2 separate regions of the Homo sapiens genome follow, and region 2 is linked to region 1. Evidence: fine-mapped expression QTL. A gene starts in region 1. The other region holds a variant in brackets. All regions are shown on one strand. Distances are between the middles of the regions.

Region 1 (5,540 bases):
TGGTTCTAATCCCAAGTCTGGCAGACTCTGTGTAAGTCAAGTTTCTTATCTTTCAACTTTGGTTCCTTAGTTTTCAAGGATGCTGTAGAGAATAAGTGAAAATATAAATGTTTGGGAAGAGTCAAGCAAAATAGGAATAAATAATAGCTAAAAACAGTCAGAGAAGTAAAGTTGTGGGGGTTGGGGGAAGTAAAAGAGGTAGCTTTATTAAAGCATGCAAAAAGGCTACATGTGATGAAGGCAGTTATTAGCCACTCTCCTATCTCCTAGACAACGGTTGAATCTTACCTAATAATTTAGGAATATTTAAAAAATATAATCTACCATTTAAAACATACCATTTAACCTACAATACCTAATAACATTTTTTTTCCTTTTCTAGAGTTGGAACCCTAAACTGACAATGTTTACACAGGGTTATGACATCTACTTGGATTATTAATGTCATTTAAGCTTTTCAGAATTATACCTTCAGATTTATGCCAACCTTACTTAAAATTTCATTTAGAGCTTTCCTGGAATTAGAAAGCAAAAAAGCTTTATTTACTGTCACATAGCTACTAACCTGGTTTTTCTTGTGATTGTATCATTGAAGATATTCCATATCTCTCTTTAGCATAATCCTACAAAAAAAGTTTTTTGCATCGTGACTTTTTATGTAAACACTAAGAGCACAGTAAACACATAAATACTAATAATAGAATATAAAAATGAATTTAACTTTCAGGATCATTTTATTAATTCAGAAAGTCAGTAGTTTCATAATGTGGAAATCTCTCATTCATTTACATATGTACTCTACAGAAAACAGAAAAGTACTGTTTCTGGTTAGTTTGTTTTGAAGATCACCACTCCTAGATGGATTTACCATACTTAATAACATTCTCAGATAAAATTTACACATATGTACAACACATCTTAACTACCTTCTTCAAAAAGATGAAACTACTTCAAAGCAGGGACATAAATTTCCTCTGTGAAGGGAGTAGGATGAAGTACCACAGTTTTATTAACTTCCTATTACAGGAAGAAATGTTCAAAGAGAACCAACGTTTTGGGTAAGCTTTCTGAGCACCAGATGTCCACAGTTTTTAGAAACTGGAGATGCTGGGTATAAGCTAACTACAACTTTCCTTTTGTAAAACATCATCAAAAAATTCACCAGCTTCCTGTTTCTAAAAACCAGATTCAGGATACCAGGTTACAGGAGTTTGACACTGACAATATAATAATATCAAATTTCTTGTTACAGATTAGAGTTAGGAACAGGAAACAGAAGACCTAGGGTCCAATCTGTTAACAAAATATACTTATTAAATAGATAAGTGGCCTTTATTTCAATCTTACTTTACCTCTAAAATGATCTAAGATTCTTCTAGCTATAAAATGGCATAACTCTGCCACAATGTCTACCTTGTATCTAGACCTATACTATCTGTAAGGGTACACTGATAGTTTATGTAATTAAGCAGATTAAGAGTACACAAAAATAATTGCCCTAGTTTTTACAAGGTAACTTAAGATCTGTATGAAACAATTAAGTTTCTGTCACTTTACAGCTACCTGTTGGAATCCTCTCCTTTAGAGCAGGAGGGTGCTGGATTTTGTGTTTACACCAAAATAAAACCAGACATGTTTAAGGCGCTTACTGAACAATTTAAAGAAAAAGATAACCCTGGCCAGAGTAGAGAGATACAGTCACACAATGAAGCCTGAGGGCAACAGAAGGAGATTAAATTGTGTGAAGGACAAAAAAGTTGCATTCATAATTAGTACTATTAATATTTCAGTGACTCTTCCTCATTTAGTATTCTAAGATGACCTTACTTCTCATGTTGCTTACCACAAACTCAGAACTCCTTATAGAAAAATTAGGGAGCCAGACGGAAATTAAGGCTTAACAGTACTACAGCACACATAACTTGTAGGATGGTTTCAAACTTTGATTTCTGAAAAGCACCGAAGGATCACTGGGTGTTATGAATTATCCACGTGATTTGGGGTCACTTCACCTCAAATGCATTCTCGGTAACTCCTATTACCTACCTTACCGGGTCACTGAGAGGGAGAAAGTAAATAAAAATGACATGTGTTCTTTAAAGCTGTCACATGGGAAATGGTCATTAAACATATTGGCAGATGGTTTTGCTAAGTACTGTCATTACTTGCTAAAGCATTAGGAACACGAGGGCTGAGTACATATCGATTACTAGTGCTTATTAAAATTTTCCCAGGGATTGTGCATTACGTGCAGGACGTGCCTAACCCAGAGAGACTCAAGTGTGACGCCGCGCTCCTACTTCCGGGGCGGCTGGTTCTTCCCGTCCTCCCCACCCCGGGGACACGCTTCTAGTAGGCCAAACTCCCAGGTGACCCCCGCAAGAAACGCGGTCCGGAGAGGGTCTGGCCCCACTGCTGGGGCAAGGGCTCTAGGCGCCCGGACCCCACGCCCGCAGCCTGCGGAGAACGTGCCGACAAGGACCTGTAGGGCCCCACTCCCCCTCCTCCCTCCCTCGGCGCAGCCCGGCCCAGGGGTCTGTCCTCCCAGGCCCAGGAAAGGAGGAAACCCACTTCCGCCGCGTCCATGATCTCCCGCGGCTTCTCCTGACTCTTGCGGCTGGCGCTGGCGCTGGGCATCGGGACACGGAACTGGGCAGTGGACACCACCCTCCCTCGCAGGCTTCCGTAAGGCAGGCCAAAGGGGCTTCTCCCTCCCTCCCAGTCTCCGCCCTCCCGACCCTGGGGTCTCAGCACACGCGCTCGGACTCCGCGTGGAGGTGCGGCTCCAGAAAGATCGCGAGAGCTGCGGCTATCTCGAGATCCCGGAGCGCTGGCGGCCGCGCGCAGGGTCTCCTCCCACTCTTGCCCCGCCCCTCCGGGAGTTTTCCCGGAGTTGGAGGGAATTCCCGGGAATTCGCGGTAGTTTCGCTGGATTGGCTCTGGGGGCGGGGGCAGGGGTTACCAGGTGGCTGGCTGTAGACCTGGGCGAATGCCAGCTCTCTTCAGCTTCGTCCCAACTGCGACTTCTGCTCCATTCTTCTAACAGCCCTTTCAACTCCGCTCGGCTGTAACCGCAGACTCGTCACTAAAACACCCACCTAAGCGCGGGCCTTGGTTTCTCCTCTCTTGGACTTTCCCGCCTTCTCTCTTCCCCTGGGCGACGTAGCTGCTTGGGGACGGAGGAGGCCTCTTCGCAATCCATTGCCCTGCTTGTTGGGACAGAGGAGTGCAGTTGGCTTGCCAAGGCAGCATGGGTTACCAGTCCCTGTGTAAGTGAGGTGTAAATACAGTGGCAACGACAACAAGAAACGCATACAATTGCATTGATTGCCTGGATCTGTTGCAGTGTTAGGGACAGTGCATAGTGTTGGTTGCCCAATGGGCGAATATCCCCAAGTTAGGCTTTTTTAAAAAACTGATTTTTTAAAAAAGCTATCATTCATGAGTTTTGAATCGAAATTGAAAATAATTTGGAGATTTGGTTTAATACTGTTTCCCCTGCCAGAGTTTGCACTCCGTCGTTTCAACTGACTTGGTAGTGTCTTAGTCTGGCACAAAGTGTTAAGGGGTGCACATAGATCCCAGCGCAAGTGAAAGGCTCTCTCTGGAGGCTCCCCCATGGAGTAGTGAGAAGACAGCCATGGTCCTTGCTTGCCTGTAGCTTTCCTTCTAATTGCAGGTGGTATGAAATTTTATTCCCTATTTAATTGATCAAAGATTATTTACAAACATCTACTTTGTGCCAGGCATTCTATCAGGTGCTGGCAATAAAAAGATAAGTCCTAGTTCCTGTTCTTAATATTACACAGGTACCTAGGCTGATAGATGCGCCATCTTGATACATGCTTCCATTATTACAGAGTCAGGAAGAGAATTTAGCTCTTAAAATGGCTGCCTGGAAGTGACACATTTCACATTCTCCTAGTTTATTGGCGAGAACAAGTCACATCGTCATTCCTGAGTTCATGGGGGCAGGAGAATTTACTCATTCCTTGGGGAGCAACACTGAATATTCATGATCAGTATCACATTCCGTTAAAAAAGGCATCCCATTATACTCATGGGATTCGAATACAGAAGGGGGTCTGTGAAGTTGCTTCATCTTGGAATTTTTTTTAAAACTTGGATTGCCTCAATCAGGTATAGTCCTAATGTATGGACTGGTTATCAGAAATCTGAATACAAATCCCATCTATTATCCCTTTGCTAGGGTAGCGATCTTACCTTTCCATCTGTCCATGAGGCCTGTCCATGTACTTCTTTCTTACTTTGGCCCCGTTGCCTTGATAAAAGTATTCTTATTTAGTCCTGGAATAAGACTGTAAATATATATTCTTGTTTCTGGCCTCCTTTCCTGATAGTGATAGAAAAGAAGCATTTGCCAGATCAGTGGCCACATGTCATATGCCTGAGGTCTTAAGAATCTGCTGTAGTAAAGATACCACAGCTGCAACTGAGGCTGTGACTTGGTTGAACTTGCAGTAGTCTACTGTCAAGTTCCTGAATTTGTCTGGTTTTTGCTGGAGCCACACCGGTGACAATAGGAATGTGATGGAGACTACCAACCATTACGTCTTTAAGGGTTGCACTGATCTCCACTATTCCCCTTGGGGACATGTTATTGTTTATGATTTCCTATCCTAGTTGGGGGCTGGGAAAGTGACTTTTAGAGATTTCCTCTTAGCTTTATCCGGTATGGTAGCCTATTCCACAGACCAAAGAATAGGGGAACAGCTCTGCTATGGTGCTCTGGCTGCTTTGCAGGATCCACATAAGCCATGTAGGCAAGGGCGGGAACTGCAGCTAACCTGAATCTTGGAAAAACATCTTGTGATCCTGCTGGAACATGAGAGGGTGGAAGGCCATCTCCCACTCACTTCCCTGTCTCCCTGAGAGGCTGTTATGGGATGGTTTCTTACTACCTCCTAGATTCTGATGAGGTGTGGGACTTCTTGCCCCCTTCCCTCAAGGGAAATGCAGAATACAAAAATGTATATAATATCTTACTGCTTAACTGGAGTCTAGAAGTGGCTGTTAAGCAACAGAGTGTCCCACTACTCATGTTGCAGTCATTTGGTGCCTTTTGTTTCAGTGATGTCCTTAATGGGACAAGAATCACAGGGAGCTGGCAACTTTGGCTTATTCTTCTTTCTCTCTCTCTTTTTTTTAATTTAATTTTTTTTTTTTTTGAGACAGAGTGTCCCTTTGTCTCCCAGGCTGGTGTGAAGTGTCATGATCTTGGCTCACTGCAACCTCCACCTCCCAAGTTCAAGTGATTCTCCTGCCTCAGCCTCCCGAGTAGCTGGGATTACAGGTGCCCGCCACCATGCCTGGCTAATTTTTGTATTTTTAGTAGGCATGGTTTCACCATGTTGGCCAGGCTGGTCTCAAACTCCTGACCTCAGGTGATCCGCCTGCCTTAGCCTCTCAAAGTGCTGGGATTACAGTAGTGAACCACCGCACCTGGCCTTTTTTTTTTTTTTTTTTTGAGGCAGGGTCCCACTCCGTTGCCCAGGTTGGAATGCAGTGGTGCGATCAAG
Region 2 (5,000 bases), 62 kb before region 1:
GGAATGCAAGATCCTGAGGTGTCTTCTCAATATTTAAAAATATATTCAATTATGACCAAGATAGTGAGTTCTTCTCAATTTTATTAAAACCTGACTCAAACTAAGTGAAACTCTACCAATAAAGTAACATACGTATTCCATTTGACTACAGTAGTCATTTATAGGAATATTTGTGATGTGAAAGATGAGTCGAGCTAGAGTCAGGAAGACTGGACAGGAGGAAAAGGCACTGAGGATATTAAGAGCCATTAGCTCAGTCCAGCTAATATCCAGTCCAGCCTTAATATCCTCAGTGCCTTTTCCTCCTGTCCAGTCTTTTTGACTCTAGTTCGACTCATCTTTCACATCACTAATATTCCTATAATACATCCTTGCTCAGAAACTTACAATGGTTCCCAAATGACTACTGTAGTAAGACATAAAATGACCAAAAAAACCCTAAAACCTTTATGCTTTCGTAAGTTAATCCTAACCTATATTTCTCACTTCTTAATACTAACTTGTCTTATTTTTGTTTTCTTGTGTAGTTCTTGCTCTTTACTTACTCTGCTTCCTGTCTAGAACTCCATCTCTGTTGTCTATATATCCTACTTTGTCCTTAAAGTACATCTCAGTTTGAATTTTCTTTTATGGTGACTCTAGCAAACTCCATTTTCTCTCTTTTTACAGTTACTATTTATACTACATAATTAACACCCATTTGCTGATGGTATAGGACAATCTGATCATTCATTGTGAAAATTATTTGATTATTCCCTATGACTGTGATATGTATGTATGTCTTAGTCTTGGGAGCAGGCACAATATTGATTCCCTTATCACTCAAAGCATGATCTGGAAATGAGCAGCATCAACAATACCCAGGACTTGTGAGAACTGCAGAATCTCAGACCTCTCCCCAGATTTACTGATCAGAATCTGTATTTTAACAAGATCTCCAGGTAATCTGTGTGCATATTAACATTTGAGAAGTGCTGGCTGGTTCTTCTTTTATGTACATGGTACCTAGCACAAGGTTATATAAGCAGCAGGTGTTCAACAAATAACTAGTTAATAAATTCAGAAAATTAAGACCCTTAATGATCTTGCCAGTTTCTCTATTAGCAAGTATTTAATTTTTATTAAGGTATCAAAAAACATATATAAAATAACTTGGTAAGTGTTAAATAAAGTAACGCTGGCTTTTCACTTACAATTAGCTTCAAAAAAGAATTTGCCACATGATTATGTGCCTGTGCTTGACTTTTAGCAAACATTTCTTAAAAACCATATTAATATAATTTATTAAATATAACATATTTGTTAGTAGTTTCTAATGGACATCAGCACATTACCAATAGTAAGGACAATACAAACAAAATAGTGAAACAGAACAGCTCTGGAATAAAATTGATAGCAAATTAGACAGAGGTACACTGTAAACTTACAGGAGTAAGAAATTATAAAGGACAAAAACATATATTTCTTTGACCACTGCAACTACCTGCTCTTCAGTGCTGATAGGGAGCTGAAAAGAGTCCAAATGGGAGCTAATTCTGTTCTAACTGCACTGAGGTATATTAAAATATATACTTAGGTATATTTCAGATGGTGTATATTTTCAAGAAACGCATTTTTAAAATGACATATTCTCAAGATAAAAATTTTCTTCAGCATTCCTCTGTAAGAATACATATGTTTATAATTGTATTCACATGGAATGATGCTCAACTGTTTAAAGTACTATTGACCATATTATTATTACTATTACTTTTAAGAAAATGTCTACCCAAATATATTATCTCTAACTCAAAGTCTAGCATTTGTGTAGTCAGCAGATAAAATAATTTAAGCTTTCAAAGTGTCTGTACATTATATAAGTAAAATGTTTCTAAAATTATAACTGCTGTATAATTAATTAACTTGGATAAAACATAACTGCCAAAATCTTACCTGGTCCAATAGAGAAAACCTTCTCAAAATCAGCACAAATGCACATTTGCTTATATAGCTGTGGGGACTGAGCCAGGTATGCATTATTTTTAAAATATGACACAGTAAAAACATTGGCTCCTCCTTCACTGGCAGCTGAAAGGTAAACATTTATATTTATATTATTATAATCAATTGTAA[A/G]CTTATCAATGCAAACCTCTAGTTAAAAAGTTTATACTCAGGTAACTCACTTTAACAAAAACTGGAAAATGAAGAATTGTGGCTAAATCACAGTCTATATACATCATCTTCTATGTGATTCTAAATAGTTTATATTTAAACCAGATTTACTTCTTTGGCTATGCTTTTATTTCACTTCTGTGGATATATATGCTCCCTTTCTGCATCAATTTCAAAACTATTAAAGCCCCTTTGGAGTTGTTAAAATTTTTTTTTTAAAATGAAAAAATATATTCTTCATCATTTTTCCTCTTTTAAAAAAATTTCCCCAGGAGCTGGAATAATCATTCTTCTTTTCTTTTTTTGAGATGGAGTCTTGCTCTGTCACCCAGGCTAGAATGCCGTGGCACGATCTCGGCTCACTGCAACCTCCGCCTCCCAGGTTCAAGCGATTCTCCTGCCTCAGCCTCCCAAGTAGCTGGGACTACAGGCGTCAACCACCGCGCCCGGCTAGTTTTTGTATTTTTAGTACAGACGGGGTTTCATCATTTTGGCCAGGCTGGTCTCGAACTCCTGACCTCGTGATCCACCCACCTCGGCTTCCCAAACTCCTGGGATTACAGGCATGAGCCACTGCGCCCAGCCTGGAATAATCATTTTTCTAATTATTAAGAATGCAATGTTCAATTGTGAATTTGTAACAAAATGCCATTTGTAACACACTTTCTAGTGTTAAACAAATCTAAAAAGGGTAAAATGATTAAGACAAGATTCTCATACAAGAATAAGAATTAGCCAGGCGTGGTGGCTCACATCTGTAATCCCAGCACTCTGGCAGGCCGAGGCAGATGGATTACCTCAGGTTGGGAGTTCGAGACCAGCCTGACCAACATGGAGAAACCCTGTATCTACTAAACATACAAAATTGGCTCGGCGTGGTGGTGCATGCTTGTAATCCCAGCTACTCGGGAGGCTGAGGCAGGAGAATCGCTTGAACCTGGGAGGTGGAGGTTCGGTGAGCCGAATTCACAACACTGCACTCCAGCCTGGGCAACAAGAATTAAGGAAATTTTCCCATCATTAGTATTTACTGATTTTACAATGCAGTTTATACAAAACAAAACTGCAATACTAATTTCAAAAGAAATCTATATAATGAAAGTAGTTCCTGGTGTAAGTTCTGTAACAAGAATCTTGCTTTGTGTGTTACTGCCTCACATTACAATCATTATCACAAAAGGACTCCTGGAATAAGAAAATGTACTTATTAAGGTTGGTGATATATGATTGTTGCTATATAAGATGGTCTTCAAAATAGTAGTCTCATGGCAATAAACCTTAATGGACACTTGGGATTCTCAAGTTAAAAATTTTATTAATATAAAGCAACTCTGGGGAGAGCAAATTTATTTTTAAAAATTAAGAGAAATATTTTGAAGCATACCTGAAATAATTTTAGGAGTTTGGATTTCCACAAAACCTTTGTTAATTAAAGTTTCTCGGAAGAGATGGCAGATGCCAGACTGGAGACGGAAGACTGCCTGACTAGTTGATGTCTAGAAGACAGTAATAAAATCTAATTAAATCAACGTACTTAATTACTAAGCACTAACTCTGTGGGCTAGGCACTGTGGAAACCTAACAATTCTTGCTTTCAACATTTTTAAATTCTAATAATTGGAGAGAAGACGAAAGGACACGAATAAATACAAGGCAAAAAGGCATGCTGGAATACAATGACTATATATGATCATATAAAGGAATTTCACCGGAAATCCTTAGTGAGCAGATGTTTTAATTTGTAGGAATTCCATAAAAGAAAAATGTTTCTTAACAATTAGTGAAACAACTTACTTGTGAATGGTCTGTTTTTTTTAAAGGCAACCAACCCATAAAGTGAGACATAGCAATGTTTGTGCAGCATACTAATGTTCTAAGTAAGATTTTGGTATTTGACAATAAATGAATAAAAACCATGTATTTTTATTTTAACCATTACAACAATACAATTGCAGATACTTGTGTATTTGTTCAATTAGATTAAGAAATTAAAAAGAAAAAAATACAATAAAAGGGGTAGGCATCCCATGACACTGATTTCCAATGTGGTACATAAAACAATAGTAGCGCTCCAACTGTGCAGCACAGTTGCCTGTTCTTTCTATTCTCTCTCTTTCCCTCCTTTCTTTCTCAGTTTCTCTGGTCCTCCTATTTACTTTTAGCCTCAATCAGTTGTGATGGTGACCAGAAAGCTCTAGAGGTAATTATCTCTACTTTAGACTAACTTTTGTCCACTTCTCTGGTCAAAAGAAGTGACTTCTTATCTTTAGGTCCTGGCTTATTATATTTTTAAAAAATAGCTATCCTATGACTAGGTAGGTGTTTAGTAAAACATGTGACCTCAAACCACTAAGTTAGCTGTGAATAACTGAGTTAGGTGAAGAAGGTGTCTTCTTAGTCTCATTACGAGAATTTCAATTACTTCTCCCATATCAAAGGGCTCACCCCTTCTGCATTTACACAGTAGTACCCTGTGAAAACACTGTTAATGGAATGATTACATTTCTTTCACTCTAAAGAATGATATTTAAATAATCTTGAATTTCTGCAGATCAGATAAAAACATTCATGTAAACTGGTCATATTTAAGTAACATTATTTTATAACTTACATTCAAAGTTACAAATCAATAGTTTCTCATAAAACAATAAAACCATTTCAAAGGTCTTTATAATTTATTAGATTACTTACTCATTTTCAAGATGTCTACATTTAAACTATAGAAAAAGACTTGCATTTTTTTCACATTATGTGGTTTAGTGAAACGTCTGGTTCATCCAATCAAAACAAATGGCATAATCTTCTGCTTTCAAAAGCCTAGTGACCTATTTAGCAAAAAGCTGTTTCAC

What was found. PIP is the estimated chance that this variant, and not a neighbour inherited with it, causes the effect. A credible set is the group of variants that fine-mapping cannot tell apart.
Region 2: its variant is the best candidate, but not a certain one, in a credible set for the expression of DARS1 in whole blood (INTERVAL, PIP 0.57).

What each region holds. Positions count from the first base shown.
Region 1 is chr2:135,982,832-135,988,371 of GRCh38, forward strand. DARS1 (aspartyl-tRNA synthetase 1) reads right to left here and starts at 2,795. Exons shown (of 16, transcript NM_001349.4): 1 at 2,572-2,795; 2 at 566-623. The coding sequence starts at 2,637. It overlaps DARS1-AS1 (DARS1 antisense RNA 1), which reads left to right and starts at 2,345. Exons shown (of 4, transcript NR_110199.1): 1 at 2,345-2,685. RefSeq lists a silencer at 2,432-2,491 and an enhancer at 2,542-2,641.
Region 2 is chr2:135,920,852-135,925,851 of GRCh38, forward strand. It overlaps DARS1 (aspartyl-tRNA synthetase 1), which reads right to left. Exons shown (of 16, transcript NM_001349.4): 8 at 3,536-3,647; 9 at 1,933-2,067. It overlaps LOC124906078 (a long non-coding RNA gene), which reads right to left. Exons shown (of 2, transcript XR_007087246.1): 2 at 4,262-4,976. Among named protein-coding and RNA genes, the nearest start is that of MCM6, 47 kb to the left of the region's middle. The variant A/G (reference allele first, on the strand shown) is at 2,113.